4 linked regions of the Homo sapiens genome follow. The protein of the gene in region 4 purifies or fractionates together with the protein of the main gene of each other region. This does not show direct contact. Each region holds a gene or a part of one and is shown on either strand. Other genes may lie near its edges.

Region 1 (5,540 bases), on a different chromosome or scaffold from region 4:
AGAAAACTGATAAGCCAACAGAAAGAGAGAAATATCTTTAATACTTGTATCCAACAAAAAATTTTGGTCCAGAATATACAAAGAACTCTTACAACTGAATAATAAAAAGACAAACAATCCAATTAAAAATGGACAAATTATTTGAACAGACAGTTCACAAAGGAAAATATACAAGTGGCCAATACATACACCAAAAGATCTTCAAACATCATTAGTCACCGGTGAAATCCAATCAAAACCAAAATGATACTACCACTCATCTACTAGAATGGTTAAAATTAAAAACATGGACAATTGTTTGCAAGGATGTGGAACAACCAGAACTCTCATACATGGCTGGTGGAAATGTAAAAATGTTTGTTACAAGCAGTTTGCAATTTTGCAGCTTCTTACCAAGTTAAACATATACTTACTATATGTACTTAGAAGTACAGTTACCTGTACTATAACTGTACTCTTAAGTATTGACTCAAGAAAAATGTAAGATATATATGCATATAAATTTTATGTAAATGTTCACAGTAGCTTTATTCATTAGAGCAAAGAACCAGAAACAACCCAAGTTAATAGTTCCACTGCAGGTGAATGGCGACACAAATTGTGTATTTGGTGATATAACATTCATACAATGGAATACTACTCAGCAATACAAAAGGAATGAGCTACTGATACTTATTAATTTTGATAATATCCTGTGCAAAAGAAGGTGCACAGAAAGGACATACTGCATGATTCGGTTTATATGAAACTCTAGAAACATTAAATCTAACCTCTAGTGACCAAAAGCAGATCATTGCTAGGGGGCAATAGGTGGGGAAGATTGGCTGAGATTAAGTACACAAGAACTCTTTAGGATGATGGAAATAATGTTCTATTACATCTTGACTGTGGTAGCAGTTACACATGTATGCAAGTATGTCAAAACTCTATCAAAATGTACATGCATAGTGGTATATCTTATTGTATATAAATTATACCTCAATTAAGTTCACACGCACACACACACACACACACCAGGGTATGGTTTTAACTTTTGGCTTAGAATAGTCCTGATCTATACCATAGGAACACAGTAAGACAGCCATCTTCTTAAATACATTCCCAGCCAAATGGATATATGAGAAGGTGCAGACTCCATGTTGCTTAGACTATTCAAATATAGAATGCACAGCTTTTATTCCTTGGACTTGAGTTCTTTGATTTATGTAACAGAATAACAATGGGACATTATCCTTGAAGTTCATGTCAATGTTATACATAAAAGTGATATGGTAAGGTCTCTCTCATATAATGGCCCTTAAAAAGATCCAAGGAATCCTTCCTAAAGCTGAAAGACATACCAAAAGTAGCATTAAGATGAAGCTTCAGTGTCTATTGATCATTTAACAGCTTTGTCCAAGGTCTGAACTAAGCAATGTTAAATGTCAAAGTTACACAAACAATGTACAAATTTTACAGCAACCCCCTTTCAGATGGTAGTTACATTAGCTGGAGTTAATACTGGTCAAAAGGATAAAAAATTGTCAGCTGATCCAAGATATATTTAAAATAAATAAGTAAAATTTTAAATGAACATGTGTTGAAAACTTAAAACATGTATTAGGCACAATGCGTCATATGCTTCATTTAAACTTTCCCAATTCTTAGACTGTCATGTCCAATTTACATGCAGAGAAACTCAAGCATAAAAAGACTAAGTAACCCGGCCAGGGTGATAGGTAGTAAGTTACAGGATCAACCCAAACTCTTAACTGCTATACTTGTTCCTCTTAAGAAAGGGTGTATTCAAAAGGTGAACTCCTGATGCATTAGACATATAAATACAAAAAATACAACTAAGAAACTAATAGAAGAAAATCCAGGAAAATATCTTTATAATCTATAGATTAGGAAGGACTTCTTACTACCCATAAAGTCAAAATTTTGACATTAAAATTAAGGATTCCTGTACCAAAGTCAAATGACTGAAACGTTGGGGATTATCATCTTAAATACACAAGAGAAATGGAAATCTATCCAAAAAGAGGGGTAAAGGGTATGAATAGGCCAGATATGGAAAGGGAAACCCAAACAGCTAGCAAGGATATGAAGAAATGATCAACCTCCCTAATAAACAGAGAAACATAAATTAAAGCAACTATCAGATTATATTTAGCAACTGAAAAATTAGCAAAATGTAGAATGTTGTACAATACCGAAGGCTGGCAAAAACGTGAGAAAATAGTTCTTTTACATTGTTGGTGAGCGTAAAAAATGGTGTTGCTGTTTTTAAAATAATCTGACAGAATTTAGTAATTATTAAATATGTGATTGACCTATACTCAGCAATACTATGTCTGGACAATACCATGTCCCTAGATATGGTAGTGCTGAGAAACTCTTCCACAGCCATTAGCAACACGTAGGAGGATGTTTATTACAGAATTATTGGTATCTAAGAATTGGAGTCAATCTGGGAATCTGCCATTAGGGGAATTGATAGGTAATTTGTGCTTACTACATAAATGAACTACTGCAAGGTTAAAAGCAATGAACTAGCTGTACATATAGCAACATATCTAGCTATCAAACAATGCTAAGTAAAGAAAGTAAATTATATGTCAGGTGCAGTGGCTCACACCTGTAATCCCAGCACTTTGGGAGGCTGAGGCAGGTGGATCAGCTGAGGTCAGGAGTTTGAGACCAGCCTGGCTAACATGGCAAAACCCCATCTTTACTAAAAATACAAAAATCAGCCAGGCATGGCGGTGTGTGCCTGTAATCCCAGCTACTTGGGAGGCTGAAGCGGGAGAATCACTTGAACCTGGGAGACAGAGGTTGCAGTGAGCTGATATCGCGCCTTTACACTCCAGCCTGGGTGACAAGAGTCAAACTGTCAAACTGTCTCAAAAAAAAAAAAAAAAAAAAAAGAAAAGAAAAGAAAAAGAAAGTAAATGATAGAGCAAAGTAGCACTTATAGCACTTATGTAAATACAAAACACACAAAAGAGGTACAAAATTTTACAAGGCTAGCTACAAAACCAACAGCATATAAAAAACATATTAGATTGGGTCCAAGGTAGGAAGGATAGAGTGAATGGGAGCTGAAATTGGGAATAGTGACCAAAAGTATAATCCAAATGAGAGGATGCCTCTAAATAATACTAATGCTCTGCATCTGAAATATTTTAAGTGATATAACTACATCAACTACTAAATTTGACAGATGTATGCATATGTATTAGAACTTGCCTTTGAGATGATGAAGCATTCTACACATTTTGGTTTTAAGTATAATAAATTTGAAAATTCATGGTATCTAGTTCTTGCTTGTTACCGTCTTAGATAAATATGCTCAAATGACCTAATGAAAAGAATACCGAACTAGGAACCCAAAAAGCTGTGACCTAGTCCAAGCTAACTAGTAACATAAACTTGGCAAAGTCATCTTATCTCTTTGACTGTCTGCTTTACTGCAAAATGGCTTTGGATGATTCTCCCAAATCTCTCCAGTCCAAAATTATTCCACTTCATTTTCTTAATGAATATTTATTCATATAAAGTTATTTTTTGTCTACTCCAATTCCTCCTTCCTTTACTTTCTCCCTCCCAAATAAAGCAAAAGCCAAGTGTATCAAAAGAGATTCAGAAAAGTGATGTAGCAATAGGAGCAAATAGCAACTTAACTTTAGGGTAGAAAGGAGAAAACGTTAAAGAGATACAGTGATTTTGACAGCCTTTTCAAGTATTCAAGGCAGAGCAAGGTTACCCTGAGCCCAGGTTCAGAAAATCTACTCCTTGAAGGATTTCACTACATGTTATTCCATATGTCACTGTATCTGCCTGGCATTACCCCTTCTTAAAACACACATTAAAGTCTCTTCTAGAGTTTCTACTTAAAGACCCTAAATTTCAGCTTATCTGTGTCAGTTTTCAGATAAAAAGTTATTTTGGAAAAGATGAATCTTCCATATTAAAAATATATGATTCCAAGAAAATGAGTTTTTTTCATCAGCAAACTAGTTACACTCAGCACTATCTACTTAAAAAAAAAAAAAAAAACCCAAAACCAAACACTCTGCTAGAATTGTGGATTAAATGAATACAAAGACCTTAAGAGTAAGGGAAATCAGAATATATTTTAGGCCGTGAGCATGAATAGTAACAGATATATAAATAATGGTGTCATATTTTATTAAAAGATAATTGAAATCAGAGTACTTAAAATATCTTAAACATTTAAAATTAGAATATTTTAAAAAGAGAAAACAGAGGACTTTCAATATAGAATAAAACAATAAAAAGAAATTAACATAATTTATAAATTTATCTTCCATTCACATTTAATTTTAAATCTGAATGGGGGAGGGGAAGGGAGAGGGAGGGAATTAAGAGATCACAAAACATCTGTTATGAATAATTTCAGCACAGATGTAGTTGTTACTGCAAAAGAGATGAAGGTTTTCCCAGGTTGCCATACTGTAAGGTTTTCTACAAACATAGTTCATACCTCAACCTCCATGTACCAAGTCTCAATAAATACATAATGTTGATTAGGAGGAGAAATGTGCATATGGACAGATAAATGCAATCCCTATGTATAGAGGGAACGTGTATTAAACAACAGGGAGCTGTTTGAAGAAAGAGAAAAGTAACTTTGTAGAGAATGAAAAAAGCTTAAAGTTTCACAGCTATAATACAAATAGACACTTGAATTCAATTTTTTGCTTTTCCTTTCATAATCTTTCCATTTATCTACATCCATATTATATAATCCAAAAATATGCTTTAACAAAATTAATGAAGTTCTAAAAATTAAGTTGTTTTCTCTGAAAACAATCATAAAGCAAATTTTACTTATTAGAGAGCATTTTGCTACTTAAGTACTGTATTATATTGCCATCTTTTTAAGCAACCCAGTTTTAAGTTAACAGCGTAACCCACCTCCATCAAGGCTAAAATCCAGACATGCTCATAACATATTGAAATTTTTATTTAGTAAAACTAATGTCCTAAAGATGTTTCCTTTAGTGACATAATACTCAAAACACTGCCCCATGCAAAAGAATGATTAGTTTATATGGCAATGCCTACATAATAGATCAAATTTAATTTTAACTAGGGTTGCTACAAAACTTTCTCTACTACATATATTTCTACTTGCTTACTACTTTTAGTTCATATCTAGTTGAATGATTATTTAGCCAGTAATATGTACAACATCTACCCTTTAAAAAGTAGTTTAAAAAATCATTTTATCATATTTCCTAATCAGGACACTTTTTCTAGTTTAAAATTTTTTGAGTTTTCTTTCAACAATGGACTTTTATTTTAGCTTATATCTCAATTAGAAATAAAGAGCATGCATTTCCACATAAATTAGTGACTGTACTGCAAAGAAACCTTTTTCAATCCTATTTCTACAGCTTCAAGTTTTCTAACCTCTCGCTGTACTCTTGCACACTAATGCATATCTTCTTCCAACATCTGCATGATTTTTCTCCTCCTCTGCTGCAATTCAATACAGGTAGTTAAGAGTAGCTAACAATATAATTCCACAT
Region 2 (5,540 bases), on a different chromosome or scaffold from region 4:
ACACCAGCAAAAAAGCTCAAACACTATCTCCAAACACTCTTACTATGGGAATATAAATATGGCAATTAGGACTTAGAGCAATCGTCAGGTCAAAGGAGTTTTATCAGCAGCAACCACAAAGAGATTCCGTTTTCAAAGAAGCTTAGAAAATACTTTAACAGGGTCAGGCGCGGTGACTCACGCCTGTAATCCCAGCTCTTTGGGAGGCCGAGGCGGGCGGATCACGAGGTCAGGAGATTGAGACCATCCTGGCGAACATGGTGAAACCCCGTCTCTACTAAAAAAAAAAACCAAAAAACAAAAAAATTAGCCAGGTGTGGTGGCAGGCGCATGTAGTCCCAGCTACTTGGGAGGCTGAGGCAGGAGCATGGCGTGAACCCAGGAGGTGGAGCTTGCAGTGAGCGGATTATCGCACCACTGCACTCCAGCCTGGGTGACAGAGCAAGACTCCGTCTCAAAAAAAAAAAAAAAAAAAAAAGATACTTTAACAAATTTACTGAGGACATCAGGGCATTGCCATTGATACCTGGGCACAAGTTGGGAAAGGTTTTAAAGTAATGGCAATGGCTGCCAGGCGCGGTGGCTCACACCTGTAATCCTAGCACTTTGGGAGGCCAAGGTGGGCAGATCACCAGGTCAGGAGATTGGGACCATCCTGGCTAACACGGTGAAACCCCGTCTCTACTAAAAATACAAAAAATTAGCCAGGCGTGGTGGCACATGCCTGTAGTCCCAGCTACTCGGGAGGCGGAGGCAGAACAATCACTTGAACCTAGGAGGCGGAGGTTGCAGTGAGCCTAGATCACGCCACTGCATTCCAGCCTGGGTGACAGAGCAAGACTCTGTCTCAAAAAAAAAAAAAAAAAAAAAAAAAAAAGTAATGGCGATGGCTTTCTCCTTAACCTAGCTCCCCACCATTCCTTGAAGATGGTACAGATTCCTCAAGAGGAACCAGTAATATTCTTCTGAAGCAATTATAGGAATTTTAATTTAAAAATTTGATGTAAAACTTCCAAGTAATTAAGATATTTTGTTTCAAATTAGAGGTTGTCTTCTAGTATTCTGGTATGAGTAGGAAGAGATACCAGGTAAGAATAGAAGATAACAATATCAATTTAATTTTTCCTACAAATTGGGAAGATGAAGTATTTACTTTTCTATCAATTATCCTACATATGTAAATCTACTTCAGCTTTTCTGCATATTCTGCTAGAGGATGGGCAGAGTTAATAAGACCATCCATCTGGTCTAACTTTGGGGAACTAAGCCCGGACCCACTTGGAAATGTGGATATGAGAAGATAATGGTGTATGGTGGGCCAGGTGCAATGGTTCACACCTGTAATCCCAGCACTCTGGGAGGCTGAGGCTAGTGGATCACCTGAGGTCAGGAGTTCGAGACCAACCTGGCCAGCATGGTGAAATCCCATCTCTAGTAAAAATACAAAAAAATTAGTCGGGCCTGGGGACATGTGCCTTTAGTCCCAGCTACTCAGGAGGCTGACGTAGGAGAATCGCTTGAACCTGGGAGATGCAGGTTGCAGTGAGCGAGACCGCACCACTGCACCCCAGCTGGGCATGGTGATACACACCCATAGTCTCAGCTGCCTGAGAGACTGAGGGAGGAAGATGGCTTCAGCATAGGAGTTTGAGGCTGTCGTGAGCCATGACTGCGATGCCACTGTACTCCAGCCTGGCAAAAGAGCAAGACCCGATTCAAAGAGAAAAAGAACAGACCAATTATCTTTATTAGAAGCAAATGTACAGCCCAACACATGGCAAAGAGTCAAGAGGTGGCAGTAAACAGGGTTTTAATTTTTAAGTGAAAAAAACTGCTTGGAAGTTTTCTGCAGAATGGTGCTGCCACGTAAAGGGAAATAAAGCACAGAAAGTAAGTGGTTGAGTACTCAAGCCAGAAGTTTGGGTAGCAGGCTTCTCCTTACTGTGTGACTAGGGCAAGTTACTTAAACCCCTTTCTCCCATTTCTTCTTTTGTAAAATATGGAAAACTGTATTGTCTTTACAAGCAGAACAGTATCTGATATACAACACCAAAAAATGCAGCATATGAAAAGCCTGGGGCTTTTAAAATATAGTTAACTTTTTAAATAAGTGACAGATTTTTTTTTTCTTTTGGAAGACAGAGACTCGCTGTGTTGCCCAGGCTGGAGCACAGCGGCATGATCTCAGCTCACTGCAACCTCTGCCTCCCGGGTTCAAGCGATTCTTCTGGTTCAGCCTCCCAAGTAGCTGGGACCACAGGCGCATGCCACCACGTCCAGCTAATTTTTGTATTTTTAGTAGAGTCAAAGTTTCAACATATTGGCCAGGCTGGTCTCAAACTTCTGACCATGTGATCTGCCCACCTCGGCCTCTCAAAGTGCTGGGATACAGGTGTGAAGCTACTGCGCCCAGCCCACGACAAAATTTCTAAGCAGTGGGTGTAGGAAAAGGATGAACACTGTCTTCTTCAATGTGTGGTAACTTGGGAAGAATAATATATTCAAGGCAGATCTGGGTTCAGATTCAGTATTATGACCCTAAACAAGTCATGTAACCTTTAAACCTCAACCTCATCACTGTAACTTGGGCAATACTACCTATCACATAGTATTGTTTTAGGATCAGATGTAATGTATGAGAGTTCTAACAATGTTAATTATGATCCAACGAGTTTTCGAACAATCTGTAAGGGACTGTGATATCTGTATTGTAGCTTACCATTCAAGGTCTTAGGGGTCAGCCAGCAGAGCTTTTTACCATCCTTGCTCACAATCATTAAGATCAAGACATGGGAGTTTTGTTTTTTTGTGTGTGTGGTTTTGTTTGTTTGTTTTTTGAGGAATTTAGTTCTGTGCTTTTTTCCATAAAGAACTCCTAAAGCTCCATTAAGAAACCCAATGGTGCTACCATTTTAGCCAATTCATTTCCAGTTACTGAGCCTGTGTTGGCTGGAGTACAGGGACCTGCACATAGGTAGAAGGAAGTTTACCAGAATGAGTTCAAAGTATTGAAGATGGGTCTCTGAAAATCTAAAACTTACGAGAACTCTTGAAGTAGTCTGGCAATTACAAGAAGTAACAATTAGTTGGAATATACCTGTGGTTATTAATGCCAATGTTAGATGAAACTTATATACAGTAGAATCCTCAAATGATAGCAAAAGTCAGACGTGCCAGTTATGTAATAATTAGAGGCTTATACACCTTAATGAAATTTAATCACACTTAGACCAATAGCATTATAGAAAGCATCCACACTTTATAATATTCTAAGTAACAAAAATTCAGTTTAGCAGCCGAAGCAAGCATGAAATGAGGAAGGAAAACAGGAAGAGAGCTAATGGTTATGTTTTCTGTTGCCTTGGGGAAGGTGGGGGGGGCCTGTTTTAACTAATGTGAATAAGCCTCTAAACACTTCCTGAAGACTTAAAGAGGGGCACCAGAATTCTTTAACTCTGGTGATACAACAGTCAAGGTTAACTGCCTTCATTTAAATGGCATGCCTGCTTCAGTGTACCAATTCAGTGGATTCTACTGCTCTGTAGCTGCTTCCCAACGCACAGAAAAGGAGTCATGTGAACAATAATTTTAAAATCCAGAGGCATGCAAGTGAACATCCATTCAGCATTCTCTGCCAGCCTAGCCCACTATTTCCCTACCTACCCCACCCCTCATCTACCTTTTCCATCCCACTTTATTGGCTAGTATGCTGCAACAAGTTACTGATAGCTAGCCAAGTCTCAGAAATCACACAGAAGGCCTATTTTGCAGTTAGTAAAAGTGTTAGTTTATAAGCCAGCTAAAGAAGACTTGCTGCTTTTGATTGAACTTACTTGACTATCACGACCTTGTTAAACTACCCCCCTTTTCATTTAGCCCTTTCCTAATCCAAAGGCAGACGGAAAATCCTGAATGGAAGGCTGACTTTTACCCATAATTAGTGAGTCAAATCCAGAATGTACTCCACCCACTGCAGCTCTTGCATATCCCGGTTACCTTCACCCTCTTTCATCTGTTCTTCTCTCTCTTGTGTCTCTTCATTAGCAGCTATCTGAACTTTGTCTTCAGGTGATTTCTCAGTAGCTCCCTGGGCTACCTTGGTATCAACCCCATCTCCAGCTGCCTCAGACTCTTCTACAGACAGCTTAGTCTCCTCCTGACTAGGAACCAGCTTTGCCCTGACCTTCTCCTCTAGTCCTGAGCCATCTTTTGTTTCTGTCAGTCTTTCTATAGAAGTCTGTGGTTCAATAGGAGTCTGATCTCCTACAACTGACGGTCCATTGACTGCACCATCCTTAGGGAGAACTGGAGCCTCCTGCCCAGGCTTTTCAGAGACTTCTGATCCAGCCTCTACAGCTGAGGCCTCTGCAGCCTCTGTTGTCACCTCTGGTGACTCTTCAGCAGGTGGTACTTCTTGACCTACCAGTTGTTCAAGAACCGCCTTTCCTGCCTCGTTTTCAGAGGTAACTACCTTCTCCTCTGGCTCGTCCCCACCCACATCCACTGGCTTGACTGTCGGGTCTAAAGACTCTGCTTCTACCTCCACTGCAGTGCCCTGCTTTTCTAGAGTCACCACAGGCTGCTCTTCTGAAACTTCTTTTGGCTTCTCCTCTATGCTCACAATTACCTCTCCCTGCTTCTCCTGACCTCCTTTTTCTCTGCACTCTTCTTGGACATCAGTTCCAGAAACTGATTTTTCTTCCTCAGCATCTGGTACTTCCTGTTCTGGCTTCCCAGAAGTGACCTCAGCTTCATTCGGTCCTTCTGGTGCTGCTCCTCCTTTTGCCTCTTCAGAGGTTTCAGTTAACCAATCTAGAGTCAAGTCAACTTTTTCCTGTGGCTCCTCTGCAGATTTACTTATATCCATATCTTCTCTTCCACCCTTCTCCATTTCACTGTCCTGTTCTTTATCAGTTTCAGGCTTTGCCAAAGACTTGTCTTCTGTTTTTTTGGCTTCTTCTTTTTCTCCCATGGCGTCATAAACCTGTTCTCTCAACTCTTCCCTTGCTTCCTCTACATGGTTAAAGAACATGAAGCATAAACATGTCTTCGAGTTTAATGATAAAGGCATAAATGGAAACTAAAAATACATTCCCTTTAAACCCTCAAAAAGCCTACCAAGTTTCAGCAGATGGCCTAAAAATTATCTGCCCCCTAGAGAAAAGGAAAGGGAGCATCCCGGCTAGCAGAGCAACTTACTGCAAAAGAAACCCAAGCTTGTTACACTAGGTATTGTTTTACTTGAGCATTCTGATTACCAGTTAGGTAAGAGATGCCAAGCTTTTCATTCTCCCCCATCTGATATGTAAAACTATAGCAGCCAAATTCAGCTTAGAAATTATATAATTTTCGCACACATAAAAAATGTACAAGGGCTCTAAAAGTACTGCTATTAAAATAACTGAACTGCACAGGCTGTTTAAAAAAATTTGCATCAGAAAAACACTTAAGGTTGTAATAGTATTTAAAACACCAATTTAATCTTGCTTTTATCTTTTTGATTTAAAAAACCCCAATCGAAATAACTGGATTTACTTGAG
Region 3 (5,540 bases), on a different chromosome or scaffold from region 4:
ATTTTTAGTAGAGACGGGGTTTCTCCATGTTGGTCAGGCTGGTCTCAAACTCCTGACCTCAGGTGATCTGCCTGCCTTGGCCTCCCAAAGCACTGGGATTACAGGCATGAGCCACCACGCCTGGCCAGGAAAAGTTTTATTTCTTCGGAATACTAGAAGCTAGCACTTCACCTAATATATGATAGGTTTTCCCGAAGGATAAGTAGTCCTTTCTTATACACAGAGTTTCCAAATAAAATATATAATGAAAGAAGCTGAGCAGACAAAGTTGAAGGTGTAAATCAGAAAGCCCAAGAAGCAGATATGATCTCAAGGAAAGCAGTAGAGAGAATAGCAGGTGGAACAGAAAAGGGTGGGGGGGGTCCTTTCAACTTCAAGAACTGGGTATAATTTACATATTTTGCTATTCTCACTAAGTATCTGTCAAATGATTCACTTTAGTTGCCATACCAACTAAGGAACTCTAATTAGGAACAAACAAACTAGGAATAAGGAACAAACAACTCTAATGTGATTTGTAACGAAAAGACTCCAATGACCATGTGGATCATTAAATTGGTAAGCGCAGGCAGCAACGGGCTGCCTGGATGGAGGTTTCCTTTTAGGCAGGTGAGGAGCAAAACTATATCAACACCTACTTATCATTTCTTAATGTGAATCACTCACAAATCAGAAAAGAAAACAAATAAAGCTTTCATTGAAAACATAAAACCAGTGCCCCAAGTCAATGTCTACAAATGAAGGTGTTGGCAAAAAGATTCCCAGTTAGTTCATTGATAAGGTTTTCCTTCTTACTCTCAGCATAAGCCAAGAAGCAGGTATCAGGCATAGATTATCTGTAATAAACAATATTGTGCCGATGGGTGATAAAGGTAGAGTTGCAGTAATATTGACTTAATATTCCCCAAAGCTCATCCTTTCCCAAACATTTTGGCTGGCCTACTAAAGCAATACATTGATTTGTGTGAATTTCATCTTCTTTCACTTCTTCTGAGCACCACTGTGAAGTACTGTTGATCGGCAAAATTACCAAAAGCTGAGCATCCAACGGAAGAAATTTAGAACCCTTAAAAACCACAAAAGGGATAATCAACAAGAAAATGAGTGTAGATGAAGCAGAGTTTCATATCTCCCTAACCATTTTCTCTCTTGCGGTTCTTTTTGCTCCTTATTCATTCATTCTTTTTCGAGAAGAATAATTCTGAAAATTAAACTAATGTGTTATTTTTTCCATAATGTATGATCCTGCTTCTAAACCCTGTTCACAGACCTAAGGAAAGAAAAATAAAAAATCAACCCAAGACTAACAAACGTATATCCCAACTCTCAGATGCCAAGCCTTCTTTTTGTTCTTTTCTTTTCTTTAGTTCAAGACAGAGTTTCACTATATTGCCCAGGCTGGTCTCTAACCCCTGGTCTCAAGTGATCTTCCCCCTTGGGCTCCCAAAGTGCTGGGACTGCAGGCATGAGCCACCATGCATGGCCAAGGCTTGTTTTTCAATGTAGACGTGCTGTTTAGTAAGGGCATGCTTTGTTGAAACATACAAATGAGCATATTGCTTAAATAAGCAAGTATGTAGACCAATAATGACAACTTGTTTTAAATAGTGTTCTTTACTGTGTTATTATATCATGATACACTGTCACATGACATGGTTGAGTTTAAAGGACTATTTTGGCATATGCTCCATTCCTCTCTCAAAATTCTAAAAGCCATTTAAACAGTAATTTATACCAGATATTCCTATTATTGCCCTTGGTAATTAGTTATGTTAGCAGCTCTGAGGAATGAAGTTCTAACTAACCTATTTTAGAATCTTGCTTTGCTAAAGCTTTGTCAGGATTCATCCTCACATCTTCTTGCTACTAACTCAATAAACTCATTTAATTTTCCTTAAAGCTTGAAATAGACTTCTAAGTATATATCTAACAAAAAAAATTGTATTTCTCTACTTTTTGAAATGAAATGTCCTTATACTGCATTCTCTTTCCCCAGTTCCACTGTACCACAGTTTAAACAGTAGGTAAATGGAAGCTACAGAAGGTTACTTCCCCCTTTTACATACCAAAAAGTGGCCCAGTGATGGATGGGGCAGGCAGTAGAATGGGATGTTTCCCAGCCCATATCAGGCACTACCAAATGTCTGTGACAACCTGCCACAGGTGGGTCCTGCAATTGTCCAGGTGTAGCATCTGTGCTACCCAGATGGTCACTGGTGAGGGGAAGTCTTCTCCAGCATAAGGGGAGCTGCAGGGCAAGTGTAACTGCAGAACTATCAGACACTTTGAAGCTTGCTGTCTAGCAGAACAAGACTTACTGCAAAATGATTTCAAATACACATGGGCAATGGCATTAAGTAAAACTGAATCACATTAGAAAGTTATTACTTTGATTGTCTTTCAATTAATCGGATTGTGACAAGGAGTCTCAAATTGGTATTGGCATGTCTCTTGCACTCACTTAACACCCACAAATCTCAAATTTTTCAGAGTAGGCATCAGACTCAGCATAATATCCATGCAGAATGTTATTATTTTTTCTTTTGCACTTTATGATAACCTTCTATTTAGAGCAAGTGATACCCTTTCCCCACTTAAAGTTCAAAGCGTCTTTAAAATGAACACTTGGTAAGCAATTTTAAAAGGTAAATAGAAGGAGATAGTCATTTTTTAATGTGATTTTATCATTTAAAAATATGCAAAAGAATAATTTTTTAATGTATAAATACAATAGTTTCTAACACTGTGCAGTCCAGCGGGTTAATCACTAGCCACACATTGCCATGAGCAAGTAAACTGTGGCTGGTGTGAATTGATATATGCTATAGGTGTAAAATACACACAAGATTTTGAAAATTTACTTCAAAAGCAAAAAGAATGTAAAATTTACATTAATAATTTTTTAATCGATTATACGTTGAAATGACAAAGATGGTATGTATTTGGTTGAATATCTGTTAAAATTAAATCTACTTTTACGAAACTTTTTGGGTTTTTTCATGTGTTTGTTTTTAAGGTGGCTACTTGAAAATTTTAAATTACATGTGATGCACATGTTTCTATTGGACAACACCGGTTTAACCAAATGACTGCACTCCACAAGAGGGCACCACAGGAGCATACAAAATTTAAAAGCTGCTTTTTTGGATGTCAAGTTTTTAAGCCTTAAATTACAGGATGCTGAAATAATCTAGAAAGGAAATTAATATTTAATATTCAGCAAAAGGTGCCTTTTTAAAGGAGCACTTTTATGGCTAAAAATAGAGTAACTGAAGACCACAAATTCCAACCCTCCAAAACTGTAGGCAACCATTCTCTGTCTCTTTTGCTTTACCCCTCAGAGAAAAGTAACTAACTACCAACACTACTAAAATAAATCCCATCCCTTATTTAAATGTCTATCTAAAATGGCTGTTCTGATATGGGAAGACTACACAGGTGCCAGCATGTGCTTGTTTAGGACATAAGTAACCAACAGCATGTGTGTACACTGTTCAGTCACTCATTACTGGTTAGCGTTTCATGCTCGAAATAAGAACGTGTCTCCAGACACCTTCCTTATGCTTGGGATTTCCTGTGGGGTCATGACTTACTGCTAAAGTGCTGTCTCCAACATTGGTGGTGATGAGCCCTTCGATAGTGCCATACTCCACGTCTCGGGGATTGAGGCGTTCTTGGTTGCGCCTTTTAAATTTTCGGAGAGCAACTCCCAGCAGGCAGGCTAAAAGACATACTGCGAACACTACAGAGAGAATAATGAGGCCAACCTCCAAGTGGAAATTCTGTGTTCCAGGGAAGGATTTTCCTGGAGTTGGAGGGAAAAGGGGGAATTAGTTGTAAGGATCACTGCTTACTTATTATTAGCATAACCAATATCCTAACAAGTAGCTCCTGATCCTGACCACACAGTCTCACAACTCACGAAGTATTAAAACTAAAACACTTCCTAATGCCTGGCCAATGGCCCAGACATTTTAACCATCATTCAATTAGACACAACTAGAATTTGAAAAAATTCCACTGAGAATCAATTGCATTAATGTATGAATGTGAGAGTGCTTTTAAAATATAAAGTACTGTACAAATCTTTGATATTACTCTCATTAACTTGGATTTGGTATGTTTCGCCATCAAGCCCTTACAGACACTGTACTATCCTTAAGAGAAAGGGCTACCTGAGCTAAAACCAAATTACCCATCTGTGGTCTCTGTCTTTAATATATCCTGGGTGTCTACTGCTGGTTTCTCACTGATTTTTTTACATCACAATTTCTGCCTAGGAACCCATTCATTCCTCTCTTCATTTACTCGCTTATTCAGACATTCATTCACTGATTCACTCCCTGGGTTCAGACCTCTCCATGACATTATGTCATCAGGCCCTGTTCTTCCCTACAGAGGCCTTACCCATTTCCATATTACTGGTCTCTTCAGCCATCCAATCACAAGCTTAACTTCCTTTACGTATTTGTTTAACTTTCCAAGCCCAACTAATCAACAGCTTGGCATACATCATACTCCATGGCATATGTCATTTGCATGAGAAAGTGTAAAACTAACAAAATGCAACGCTGAATTATAAATACTGTGGCCACGCTAATCAGATTAGAATGTCCTTAAATTCAAAAAAAAAAATCTTCTATTAAAACTCAAGGTCTAGCAGAGTGATCTGCAGATTAGAAACTTCACAGTTGGTATAATAATGTTTGTATGAATTCAGACATTTGTTTATGTCCATCCACCCAATTAATAAAAATTTAACTCACAAAGTATAACAGTAAATTTTATTCCATCAAGGACCCTTTTAGTTTTAACCATGTAAATACTTGATCTCCTTTAAAACCCTCTTTGATTATTCAATCCTATTTGCTTGTCAGAATTTAACCTTTTCCATATGCCTTAAAGTCATCACCATAACTTCAAAATTACTAGAACATGATCTTGCATCAGCTTTTTTGTTCTTCTGCCTCCTTTCTTGCTGGCTGACATTTCTAGTTTTGGATGCTCGTCGTTACCTCTCCTCCACTTTTTGGTTTGTTTCTTTTTTCTGAGTGCAAAATTAAATAACTAAACCTATTAAAAATGTACTATATGGTAAGAGAATAAATTTGGCTTGGAATGAGTTTACATAAATGTTTGCAGAGACTTTAAGATTGCAATTTAGGGCTCATTTAATAGGGAAACAGTTTCAGAGCTGGACTGGTTTCCTTAGCATATGCAATCTGTACTGATGGTAGAGAGAAGATTCCACAAAAACTACAGGGTTTGTGCGAAATCTCATCCTGCTTCAAATTTCAGTGATAGGGTCACTGGGCATCAGATATGGGAGAAGAGGTCAGTGAGCCTTCTTTTATCTCCTTCCTCATAAAACAGGAAAGGCATTCCACTCAGTCACCAGTCCGTTCTGTTTTCCTCCCTACACACTTGACACAGAGATGAGTATTTACTAGCAGAATTGTTTCAGAAATTATGAATGACATCATGGGTCAGTAACATAAAAAGGTATTGGGAGCTGTTCACCTGAGTCACAGCAACCAAGA
Region 4 (3,500 bases):
ACATTCCTTTTTAACACTCCAATTGTTGTTTCTGCTCAAGTGAACATCTTGGCTTAAAAAGGGGGAAAATGTACAGCTCCTCTCAACAAAGACTTCATGCCCAACCTATTTGTCATACTACTAATTAATACACTCTAAAGGAGAATAACCCAAGGCTGGGGGGCCCAAGAGAGAGGAAAGAGACACAGAAATGCCAACCCACCTCCGGTGAGATGCATAAGTCAAAACCCATTCATCTTCGACAGGCCCATGTTTAAAAAGGTCACAGAGAGGTTAATGATGAGCCGCGGAATTTCGAGATGTAAATAGCCTGCTGCAGAAGCTGGGTCTGCTTTGGCCCAACTGTGGGAGTGTTTGTACAACTTCACCCCATTTCACAGCAACCAGTCCGGCTTTCACCCCTCCCCTCCAGCCCTCCAGCCCTCCAGCCCTGAGGCTGGACAGACACTGGGCTGAAGAGGACCCAGTTCGGGACACACCTCTGCAAGGGTAGGAAGGAGGGCACACTTACCCAGTGGCTTGTACTCGTCGCGAGGAGACAGCCGAGAGTAGGGAGGTGGCGGAGATTCTGGAAGACAGGAGACAGCATGTCACTGCCAGGGTTGGGGAGCTCACACCTCAGGTTCTACATGCTTTTAATTACTGGTTTCCCAAATAATAAACTCAGCCTCCAGGAAGCCCTCCCTTTGTCCCACCTCCTCTGCTGCCCAAATCCCCTCAACAGTTAAAGCCGCAGGCTTGGGGCACAGACAGATATGGGCTCAATCCCAGCTCTGCCACCTTTGGCTGTGTGACCTCAAGCAACTTACTTCACCTCTCTGAGCCTGTTTCCTCAGCTCTAAAATGAGGATAATAATCATCTAGACCTCCCAGGTTTGCTGGGATAATGTATGTAAAATGCTTAGTGCAGCTCTTGGCCCTGTCCAAAAACACCTCCATAAACAGTAACTGTTACTACTTTAACAAGAGAAACGTGAGTGCAGGGAAAGTCAGAGCCAGGGTTGCTGGATAAAATACCGGATGCTCAGTTACATTTGAGTTTTGGATAAACATGGCATCATTTTGTAGTATAAGTGTGTCCCTTTCAATATTGGGGGTGTACTTATACTAAAATATGGTGTGTTGTTTATCTGATACTCGAATTTAACTGGGCATCCTGCATTTTATTTGCTAAATTTGGCAAGCCTAGTGTGAGTGCAAAGGCCCAGACACAGAAACTCGTGTCCAAACAAGCTGCATTAGAGCTAGCATTCCTAGGTGCAGGGGAGGACAGTAGAAAGGGTTAGGACCCAAAAGGCCAAACCCAGCTATCTCAATAGGCCTTAAGCCAGTCACTTCCAGCTGTTGGCCTCAGTCTCCCCTTTTGTAAAGGACAGGGGTGGAACACAAGCTCTCTACAGCTCAGATGCTATGATTCCTTATTGTCTATGATATTTTTCTTTGGGTTTCATTTGCCTAAAATACTTCTCCTTAAAAACATATACTTTGCTTTCAGAAGAATTCCTTAGCTTCTTGCTTTATGGGAAGTAACAATTTGCTAAACTAAGTAACAATTTGCATGAATGAAATGACCCTTCATTTTCGGTAAATGAAACTAAACACAATCAAATCGCAAACTAAAACAAACTCTCAGTGGTAATAACTATTATTAAGCGGGTATCAGTAATGACACAAGGGGTAATAAGTGTTTTTCACAATTGTAATAAGCCACAATTAGTTACAGGAGCATTTGTTTTGCTCCATACACCCAATGAGGCCTCACCTCTTCCCCACCCCGGCTTTTCCAGCTCAAAGTTACTTCCAACAAAGTCAAAGCTCTGAGGTTTAGAAACAGAGACTTTCTGTGGACAGAAATTAGGGAGAAGGAAAAGTGAATCACAGAGTAGCCACTGAGAGAGACGCGAACATTTGCTCGGTGTCTACGTTGTGTCTCACTCCATGCCAATCACTTTCAATTTTACTATTTTAGACCTCAGGTACAGAGTAGTTAATTATGCTCATCAGGCACCTATTTTTATTTAATCCTTTCTCAAAATACAAAAATTAAATGAGATGACATTATTATCCCCATTTTACAGATGAGAAAACTGACTTGCGCATGTTCCCCGAGCCAGTCATGGTGGAGCTGGGATTCCAGTCCAGGCCTGACTCTGCTCTGCCACCCAATAAGGTGGAATCAAGAGATGCCCTGTCTTACACCCCTTCATCCCCGCTGGGTCTGGGACACCACCTGCACAGAACGCGCTCACTAAATGTGGACACAGACAACTGGGATGAGGATAATGGTAAAGTTGAATGCATCTGTGGCCAAAGATGTGCAGAAAGAGGATCTAGGGGGCTCTCAGGCCTAGAGGCCAGCCTTGAGTGAGGACCAGCCTCTCAGGATAAGAGGCAGGGCATAGGAAGGGCTGGAGTTCCACAGGAAAAGAGAATTGAGGCCAGTGTTTCCACTGTACAGAGAAGGAGACTGTGGCCTGGTGAGTGGAAGTGACTCCCTCAGGAGCTAGGTATCGAGCCAGAACCAAAGCCAGGTCTCTGACCTCCATGCCCTTTCCACCACCCCCATGAACTTATCAGAAAGCCTGCAATTCCTTAGGGTTACTTTTGCAAAAATCTGACTGGCTGAGGTCTAGGCCACACATGGCATGGAGCTCTGAACATCTGCCCCCAAGATTTGTCCCCAAAGGTGAATCTTGACAACTATGGGCAGTAGTGGCTGGAGTCAAGCCTCTGTAACCAATGCCAGCATCTCTTCCAGGGGCTGCTTACCTGGGACTCAAAAGGTGGAAGGCAGGAAAGGCTCATGAAGTCCCACCTGGAAGAGCTACCTGGGCCTTGAGTTGTGACACCTGCTACCCATGGCCATAGCTGAGTTGGGAGTTCCAATGTTGTGAGATAGAAAGAAAATCTATGAACCTGAACCATGAGACATGCCAGCTAGTGGAGCACTACAAACCGTTCAGGAGGGACCTCACCAGGCTCCCATTAGCTCTGGCAAAATAGTATGCACACAACTGTTTAACAACTGCAGGGACTGAAAGCTAATCACTAAATTCCATTGTAGGCAACTAAAAAAGTATGAAGGCTTTAGACTCCACCCCACAACACAAGGATTTAGAGTGTCAAAGACAGAAGAGGCCTTGGGGTTCACCCAACTCAATTCCTTCTTTTCACTGATATGAAACTAAGGTCCCACTTGCTGAAGGACCTGCCCAAGGCCACACATGAAGGTAGCTGCAGGTGTTACAGGGGAGGCCAGTTACAGACCAATATCAGGTGACCCTTTCCAAAAATTGAGATATAATTCACATACCCTAAGATTCATCCTTTTTAAAAATATACCATTCAGTGGTTTTTGAGTATATTCACAGTGTTGTGCAACCATCAACCACCATCTAAACACAAGACATTTTTTTTATCGCAAAAAGAAACACCATCCCCATTGGCAGTCACTTTCTAGACCCCAACCCCAAAACCCTGGGCAACCACTAACTTACTTT

The links. The genes of interacting proteins can lie anywhere in the genome.
Region 1: the proteins of SMAD6 (region 4) and ZEB1 purify together in Homo sapiens (affinity purification with western blotting; one study listed by BioGRID). This does not show direct contact.
Region 2: the proteins of SMAD6 (region 4) and NASP purify together in Homo sapiens (affinity purification with mass spectrometry, with the first as the bait; one study listed by BioGRID). This does not show direct contact.
Region 3: the proteins of SMAD6 (region 4) and ACVR1 purify together in Homo sapiens (affinity purification with western blotting, with the first as the bait; 2 studies listed by BioGRID). This does not show direct contact.

What each region holds. Positions count from the first base shown.
Region 1 is NC_000010.11:31,324,469-31,330,008, reverse strand, and holds part of ZEB1 (zinc finger E-box-binding homeobox 1), read right to left. Parts: intron 1-5,540. UniProt on the Homo sapiens protein: Acts as a transcriptional repressor. Inhibits interleukin-2 (IL-2) gene expression. Enhances or represses the promoter activity of the ATP1A1 gene depending on the quantity of cDNA and on the cell type.
Region 2 is NC_000001.11:45,606,794-45,612,333, reverse strand, and holds part of NASP (nuclear autoantigenic sperm protein), read right to left. Parts: intron 5,014-5,540; coding exon 3,997-5,013; intron 1-3,996. UniProt on the Homo sapiens protein: Component of the histone chaperone network. Binds and stabilizes histone H3-H4 not bound to chromatin to maintain a soluble reservoir and modulate degradation by chaperone-mediated autophagy.
Region 3 is NC_000002.12:157,774,538-157,780,077, forward strand, and holds part of ACVR1 (activin receptor type-1 precursor), read right to left. Parts: intron 3,806-5,540; coding exon 3,594-3,805; intron 1-3,593. UniProt on the Homo sapiens protein: Bone morphogenetic protein (BMP) type I receptor that is involved in a wide variety of biological processes, including bone, heart, cartilage, nervous, and reproductive system development and regulation.
Region 4 is NC_000015.10:66,708,736-66,712,235, reverse strand, and holds part of SMAD6 (mothers against decapentaplegic homolog 6), read right to left. Parts: coding exon of another isoform or gene 3,498-3,500; intron 1,842-3,497; exon of another isoform or gene 1,763-1,841; intron 569-1,762; coding exon 512-568; intron 1-511. UniProt on the Homo sapiens protein: Transforming growth factor-beta superfamily receptors signaling occurs through the Smad family of intracellular mediators. SMAD6 is an inhibitory Smad (i-Smad) that negatively regulates signaling downstream of type I transforming growth factor-beta.